Homo sapiens: one gene and its partner. The protein of the gene in region 1 purifies or fractionates together with the protein of each later gene. This does not show direct contact. Each region holds a gene or a part of one and is shown in the gene's direction. Other genes may lie near its edges.

Region 1 (3,818 bases):
CTGTCCTTGTGGAACATTTGTTCTGTCAGAGAAGACAGTGTGTTGGCTCACATTGTGGTCAGTGCTGTTGAGCAAAATAGGTCAGAGTAAGGGGGATGGAGACTGGTGGGAGGAATGCTGCTTTATCCAGGATGGGCAGGGAGGACTCGATGGTGTCAGCACTGAAGGATGTAAGATCTGCTGCTCTGGGGAGAGGAGCAGCATGGAAGGAGTAGAGTGCAGAGGCCATGAGGAAGGATCAGGCTTGACTCCTTTGAGCAAGGGGGATGGGAGAGTGACGGGAGAAGAGGACAGGCCACATGGCCTGGTGGCCTGTGCTGAGGCCTTGGGCTTTTACTCAAGTGAGATGAGATGCCATTGGCCAGTTTGGGCAGTGATGTGATCAGACTTGTTTCAGCAGGACCATCCTGCTTGCAATGTGGAGAGCAGGCTGTAGGGGGTGCTATAGGAGCACAAGGTTGGAGGCAGGGAAGATGGCAGCACTGGCTGTTGGGCCATTTGAAGAAGCAAGGCCAGGGATGTTGGCAGGGACCAGGCCAGAGTGCCTCCAATGGCTAACTAAGGAGCCTGGACATTGAATTTCTAGGTTAGCTTAGGATTTCTCATCCTCCCATCTGTGAATGTCATAGATCTCTCATTTTGCCTGAGTCTTTTATGCAATGATATTTTATTTGTAATATTTTCCCGGTTTTTGATTGTTTTTTAACAAATGAATTTTTTAAGAGACTTAATTTTTTAAGAGAAACTTTAATTTCCCAGCAAAAGTGAGAGGAAGGTAGAGAGATTTCCCATCTATCCCCTGCCCCTACACACGCATTGCTTCTCCTACTATCAACATCCCCCACCAGACCAGTGCATCTGTTACCATCGGTGAGCCCACATTACACTGACATATCCACATCACCTGAAACCCATAGTTTACATTAGGGTTCATTCTTGGTGTTGCATGATCTGTGGGTTTGGACAAACGTATGAAGACATGTATTCCACCATTATAGTATCATGCAGAGTATTTTCACTGCCCTAAAAGTCCTCTGTGTTCCCTGTACTCATCTTTCCCACCTTGTCTTGCCTGTTTCTGTTAGGTTTAGTCCGAGGCCTAGCAGAGGGAATGGGCAGAAGTTTCCAGTTCCAGGCTTCACCCCAGGCTCGCAGCTTCAAGCAGAGCCTGTCGCTTAGGCTCCCTTGCACCTGGAGTCGAAACCATGGCTCCCATTCACCTGTCTCTTATTTTCCTGTCCTTCCCACTCCTCACTCACCTACTATTCATTTCCATTTTTGGATGAGGATTCTCCTTTATTGCTTTTTAACTAAAAACCTGTTTTAGTTAGCATCTTTATTCTAATTTCTTTAAATGCTATGTCATACTCAGCAAGGACATGCTCATATTAGGGGAAGCACATAAAGTAAGATATCCCTGAGAGAACAGTGCATCTCACACCCATTCCATGGCTTAGGCTTATGCAGGAAGTGCAATATTTGGCCATATCACTTAAGTACATATGCTTATATTATGTATACTTGCATGCATATTACATTTACAAGTAGATGAATTCGTGTAAGTTAAATGGTTCTATTATATGTCTTCACTATATTAAGGTCAGTCACAATTTAATTGAAATAGATCATCCTAGGTGAATCCACCTGGCATAATTATCAGCCCTGTTAAGCACAGACACAGGAGATGCAAAGGAAAGAAGTATTCAGTAGAGCGGTGGTGCTGGGCTGAGTACCTGCTATCAGACGCAGCACTTACCAGTTTGGAAATTGAATGGGGCTCCTAGAAAACATCCTTGTTTCATGTAAATGTTGCTTTTTACCCCTCTTTCTTTGGGCCCCATCAATTTGGAAGTACAGCTTTCAGATTGAAGTATGTGTCAGTTCCTTTGTGTCCAAACAAGATGGCTAAGTAGGTCGTCATGACAGGTAACTACCAGTGCTTTAAAAACTTTAGGATTTCCCCCCACAGTTCTCAATCACTTGGTTCATTGTTCAGCAATATGGCCTAAGGGGGTGATTTCTTCATTGATAAGTGACAGGGCAGGGACACTGGAAAGATCTATTGTCAGAAGGCCTGGATTCAGGTTCAAGGCCTGGTTCTTAGTAATTTTGTGACCAAGCAATCGCTGAGGTGGCTGGGCGTGGTGGCTCGCACCTGTAATCCCAGCACTTTGGGAGGCCAAGGCGGGCAGATCACGAGGTCAGGAGATAGAGACCATCCTGGCTAACACAGTGAAACCTCGTCTCCACTGAAAAATAGAAAAAATTAGCCAGGCCTGGTGGCCGGCGCCTGTAGTCCCAGCTACTTGGGAGGCTGAGGCAGTAGAATGGCGTGAACCCGGGAGGTGGAGCTTGCAGTGAGCCAAGGTCGCGCCACTGCACTGCAGCCTGGGTGACAGAGCAAGACTGGGTCTCAAAAAAAAAAAAAAAAAATCATTTGATAAATAATGGGCTGTGCATGGTGACTCAGGCCTGTAATCCCAGCACTTTGGGAGGCCAAGGTGGGTGGATTACCTGAGGTCAGGAGTTCAAGACCAGCCTGGCCAACATGGTGAAACCCTGTCTTTACTAAAAATACAAAAATTAGCTGGGCGTCTCCAAAAAAAAAAAAAAAGAAAAAGAAAAATCACTGAGCTACTGTATCCTCATAGAGAATAATTACAGTAATGTGTATGTGCGTGTGTTTTGGTAATCTTTTATCTTGGATTTATCAAACCTACAGAAAAGTTGCAAGAACAGTAGAAGGAATGGCTGTATACTCTTCACACTTATTCACCACTTGCTTACCTGTTGTCCCACTTGCTTTGCCATTTTTTCTCTCTCCCTCTGTTTTCCCCTGAAACATTGGAGAGTAACTTTGAGTCCTCATACTCTTCCCCTATAAAATTTCAATGTGTGTTTCCTGAGATCAACAATGTTCTTATATATAACCCAGAATAAATATCTGAGTCAGGAAATTTGACATTGATATTGCCTATTAGCTAATCCTTAGACCAAATTTAAATTCTGTCAATTATTTTGTTGATGTACCTGTGGCTTTTTTTTTTTTTCTGAATCAAGAATCCAATCAATCCAGGACTGTGTGTTGTGTTGCATTTAGTTGTCATGTTTCTTCATGTCCTTCCGTCTACTCCTTTGCCTTCCTTTGCCCTTCTTTTTTTCTCCCACCATCTATCTAACCAGATGAACTTTGTCTTTCTTGATCTTGTTACTTTTTAAAAAATAGGTGAGTTCTTGTGGTTTTTTTTCCTGACATATCCTCATTATTAGATTTGGATTGTATACTTTTGTCAGAAGCAGCCCAGAAAGGATGTGTCCTTGGTCATGTCAGGAGGGACAGGACGTTGTATCAATATGTCTGGTTCCTCATTAAATTTGCAACTACTCTTTTAGCCTTTATTGTTTATTTTCTGACTCTGTTTTTTTTTTCTTTAGCCAACTCACGCCATGACTCTACTTTTGCTTCTATGTTTATTAGTTGGCATTCTGTACTAAGACAGCTTTACCCTTCTTGCCTACTTATTTATGTCAGTATGAGCTCAGAAGTTCTTATTCAGGGGCTTATAATACAGTACTCTTATTATTTTATGGTTACACAGTCCCAACTTTGTCCTGTGGGAACCCTTTCAGGCTGGCTCTTATGTTCTGGTGACATAATCTCATCCTTCTTTAAGTACTTTCTTTCTGGTATTAACAATATGCTCCAGACTCATTCTTCCCGAGCCCCAGCCCCAGAATCAGCTTTTTCTCTAAAGAGCCCTGGTTCTTTGGAAATGAAATGAAAGACGCCTGGTGTGCATGGTATTTAGAAACCAAGA
Region 2 (3,818 bases), about 110 Mb from region 1:
CCTTATGTGGTGCTCTTGCTGTCATGCCTGCTGTCCTGGCTTTCTCTCTGGCAAAGGAGAAGACCCCCAGTGGAGCCAGCCTGGTTGGGTACTTGAGGAATTCCAGTGGTTCTGCTGGCACCATGGTGACTTGTCCACATGACAAGTGGTGTGGGTGCCACAGACCAGACATGCAGGTTTGCTCTGAGGTGTGTAACTCATAAACAGCCCGCCAAGCTGGTCCATAACTCCTGTTTATTTGAATGTAAATTAGAAAATGACTGGAGTGTTGAAATCGTCTTGTGGGAAAAGCCCCAAACAAGTTGGCTGGTTGTGTGTGTGTGTGTGTGTGTGTTTTGTTTAAGAGACAAGGTCTTGCTTCATCGCCCAGACTGGCATGCAGTGGGGTGATCACAGCTCACTGCAGCCTCCAGCTCCTGGGCTCAAGTGATCCTCCTGCCTCAGCCTCATAAGTAGTTGGGATTATAGGCGTGTGCCACGGCGCTCAACTCTTGCTTTTTTTTTTTTTTTTTTTTTTTGAGACAGAGTCTTGCTCTATTGCCCAGGCTGGAGTGCAGTGGCACGATCTCGGCTCACTGCAACCTCTGCGTCCTGGGTTCAAGTGATTCTCCTGGCTCAGCCTCCCCAGTAGCTGGGATTACAGATGTGCACCACCATGCCCGGCTAATTTTTTGTATTTTCACTAGAGACAGGGTTTCACCATGCTGGCTAGGCTGGTCTTGAACTCCTGACCTCATGATCCACCCACGTCAGCCTCCCAAAGTGCTGGGATTACAGGCGTGAGCTACCGCGCCCAGCCTCAGCTCTGGCTTTTCCTTCATCTGGGACATCAGGCTAACTGGGAACCAGCCCCACCTGTACCCCTTGATCTGTGAGTTAGAAGCTCCCCCACTGCAACAAGCATCCTCTGAGATTTGGGACCACCTACCACAGCCTTACAATATTTTCTGCTTTTTTTTTTTTAAATTTAAAGTTAATGCTAATACCTGTTTATTTTTGGTTTTGTATAGAACAGGGGTGTACAATTTTTTGGATTCCCAGGGCCACACTGGAAGAATTGTCTTGGGCCACACATGAAATACACTAACGCTAATGATAGCTGAGGAGCTAAAAACCAAAACAAAACAAAACAAAACTCAAATCTCATAATGTTTTAAGAAAGTTTATGAATTTGTATTGGGCCACATTCAAAGCGGTCCTGGGCCACATGCAGCCTGCGGTCTGCGGGTTGGACAAGGTTGGTGAAGAATATCCCAAGAAAGACAAGAAACTGTATTAACCCTCCTAATATAGCAGGTGAGTTATCATTTTGATTGACTGTTGAGAGCTGGATTCTAGTGGAATGTGATTTAGATTGTGTGCCTGGGAGGGACCCTGAGAAGATGAAACAAATAATGTCTTGTTGGAGGAAGAAGCCAGAGAGACACTTTCTGCAATGGCTGTACAATTTTGAAACTGCTGGCAGACTTCGGAGATGCATTTGCAAGTAGTAAGTGAGGCTTTTTTAGCCTTCAGGAACACCTGCTGTGTGCTGGTGCCGTGCTGGTGGGTCCCACTCTTGATCCCACCTGGCCAGAGAACAATCTGGAAGGAGGGCTATGGAGGGCCCTATTGTGTTTTTCTGTCCATGTGTGTAACAGCCCATGAGTCGGCTGTTTTTGAGGCTCAGAGGGGAGAAGTCACTTTGAGTCTGATTCTCTTCCTCTGACATCCATGCCCTGAACACCGTGGACAGATGAGTGGAAGGAAACACGGAGACTGGCATCCATCTGAGCCAGCCTGAGCTTGAGAGGCCCCGAGGTGGCTTCTTTTTGGCAGCTCCGTTTCCCAACAGCTGTGTGGCAAAAGGCCCACTTCCTAAAGGTCTAGGGCCATCCATCCTACCTTTGGAAAGATGTGGTGAGTCCAGGCAGGAGCACCAAAATCAATGCCTGACTTGGTGAATGACTGCCAGGGCACAGAGCCAGCTGCATGGCTGCTTAAGTCTGACAATTGCTCCAGCAGCCTCCTTTATAATGTCCAAAGGCCAGAGTACATACAGACCAGTGGCACCCGCCCACCCGGTCCTGGGATGGTGGTGATTAGATCTTTGTGTTCAGAAAAATCTGGCCCTTGAGGTCAGAGCCTGAGGTTTGGCCTCTCTGCTGCCAGAAGGACGAGGATTGAGTAGGAGGGGAGAGACTACAGTTGCTTGCTAACTCATCTTGCCCCTCCTCTGCTGCACAGGGATGCTTGGAGGGACAGCCCTCCACTGTGAATCCCTTGGGGCAGAAGTCAGGCCCTCCCAGGACCCACCAATGGGCTTCTGCAGCATGGGCGCCCAGCCTATATCCACGTGAAAAGGAATGGGAGGAATTCATGACAAAGGGCTTTATAAAATATAACGTATGACCGTGATCATAACTAGCATCATCTCTATTTTGAGTGGCTCCCAGGATATGCCATTGAATTAGGCAGTAACTCATTTCTAATCCTCATGATGAACTTAGGAGGAATTTGGCACCATTTTCCAGAAGAGGAAACCAATGTGCAGGGAGGTGAAGCGATTTGATCAGGTCATGAAGGTAGGAAGTGGTCCACAGGACTTTACAGCAGGTCTAGCCCTGTAACAGGGGAGACCAACACCACATCAGGAAACAGGAAGACGTTGGAAGTCGTCTCTAGGGCAGAAATGTCCCTTGTAGGGGAGGAGGGGAAATGATAGGAAGTTCCCGGCTGGCATGACAATGTGATTATTTCAATGAGCTTCTTAGAATGGAAATATTGGGGCCGGGCGCAGTGGCTCATGCCTGTAATCCCAACACTTTGGGGGGCCGAAGCGGGTAGATCACGAGGTCAGGAGTTTGAGACCAGCCTGGCCAACATGGTAAAACCCTGTCTCTACTAAAAATACAAAAAAAAATTGGCCAGGTGTGGTGGCGCAATCCTGTAATCCCAGCTACTCTGAAGGCTGAGGCAGGAGAATCGCTTGACCCAGGAGGCGGAGGTTACAGTGAGTCGAGATCACGCCACTACTCCAGCCTGGGACAGAGCGAGAGTCCGTCTCAGAAAAAAAAAAAAAAAAAAAAAAGAATGGAAATGTTGGGTCCTAGTCTTAGGTTTCATTGTTTCAGTAAAAACCTGCCAGAGTGAATGTTAACTCCTTTTATTACGTACTTACAGTGGTACTTATATGGAGGCCTTTTTTGTGGTTCTTGCTAGAGTGTTAACTGTATCTGAGCTTTTCAAAGTCATTGCAGTGGATCAGCCCTCTCCAGGGTCTTCTAGAAGCCTCTGCTTTCCACCCTGGCAGTTAGGCAGTCGACTCACACTTCCCCTGTGTTCAGAAATGATTCATTTTCTGCCTTGCTGTTCCTCCAAGTTCCTTACTTCACTCCCTTCTGAGATCTCTGTCTTAATGGTCTGGAATACATTTGAAGTCATTATTTTATGATGGGGAGATTTCTGCTAATTTTACCCCTAACAATCAATCAATGAGTCAATAATTCTTTTTCTCCCTCCTCCCTTCCTTCCTCTCCTTCTGCTTTGATTTCTTAATCATTGGAATAATTGTTTTCTGGATTTCCTCTCTAAAGAAAAGCTTTGTCTGTTGGGAAAGGTGATGATGATATAATTTATAATAATAAGCATAAATGATAATACCTTCTTTTTATTTTATTTTATTTTATTTTATTTTATTTTTGAGACAGAGTCTTGCTCTGTCACCAAGGCTGGAGTGCAGTGGCATGATCTCGGCTCACTGCAACCTCCACCCTCCCCCTAGGTTCAAGCAATTATCTTACCTCAGCCTCCCAAGTAGCTGGAATTATAGGCACACA

What was found.
Region 2: the proteins of TIGAR (region 1) and GLTP fractionate together in Homo sapiens (co-fractionation; one large-scale study listed by BioGRID). This does not show direct contact.

The regions. Positions count from the first base shown.
Region 1 is NC_000012.12:4,355,689-4,359,506, forward strand, and holds part of TIGAR (fructose-2,6-bisphosphatase TIGAR), read left to right. Parts: 3' UTR 1-3,818.
Region 2 is NC_000012.12:109,870,334-109,874,151, reverse strand, and holds part of GLTP (glycolipid transfer protein), read left to right. Parts: intron 1-3,818. UniProt on the Homo sapiens protein: Accelerates the intermembrane transfer of various glycolipids. Catalyzes the transfer of various glycosphingolipids between membranes but does not catalyze the transfer of phospholipids. May be involved in the intracellular translocation of glucosylceramides.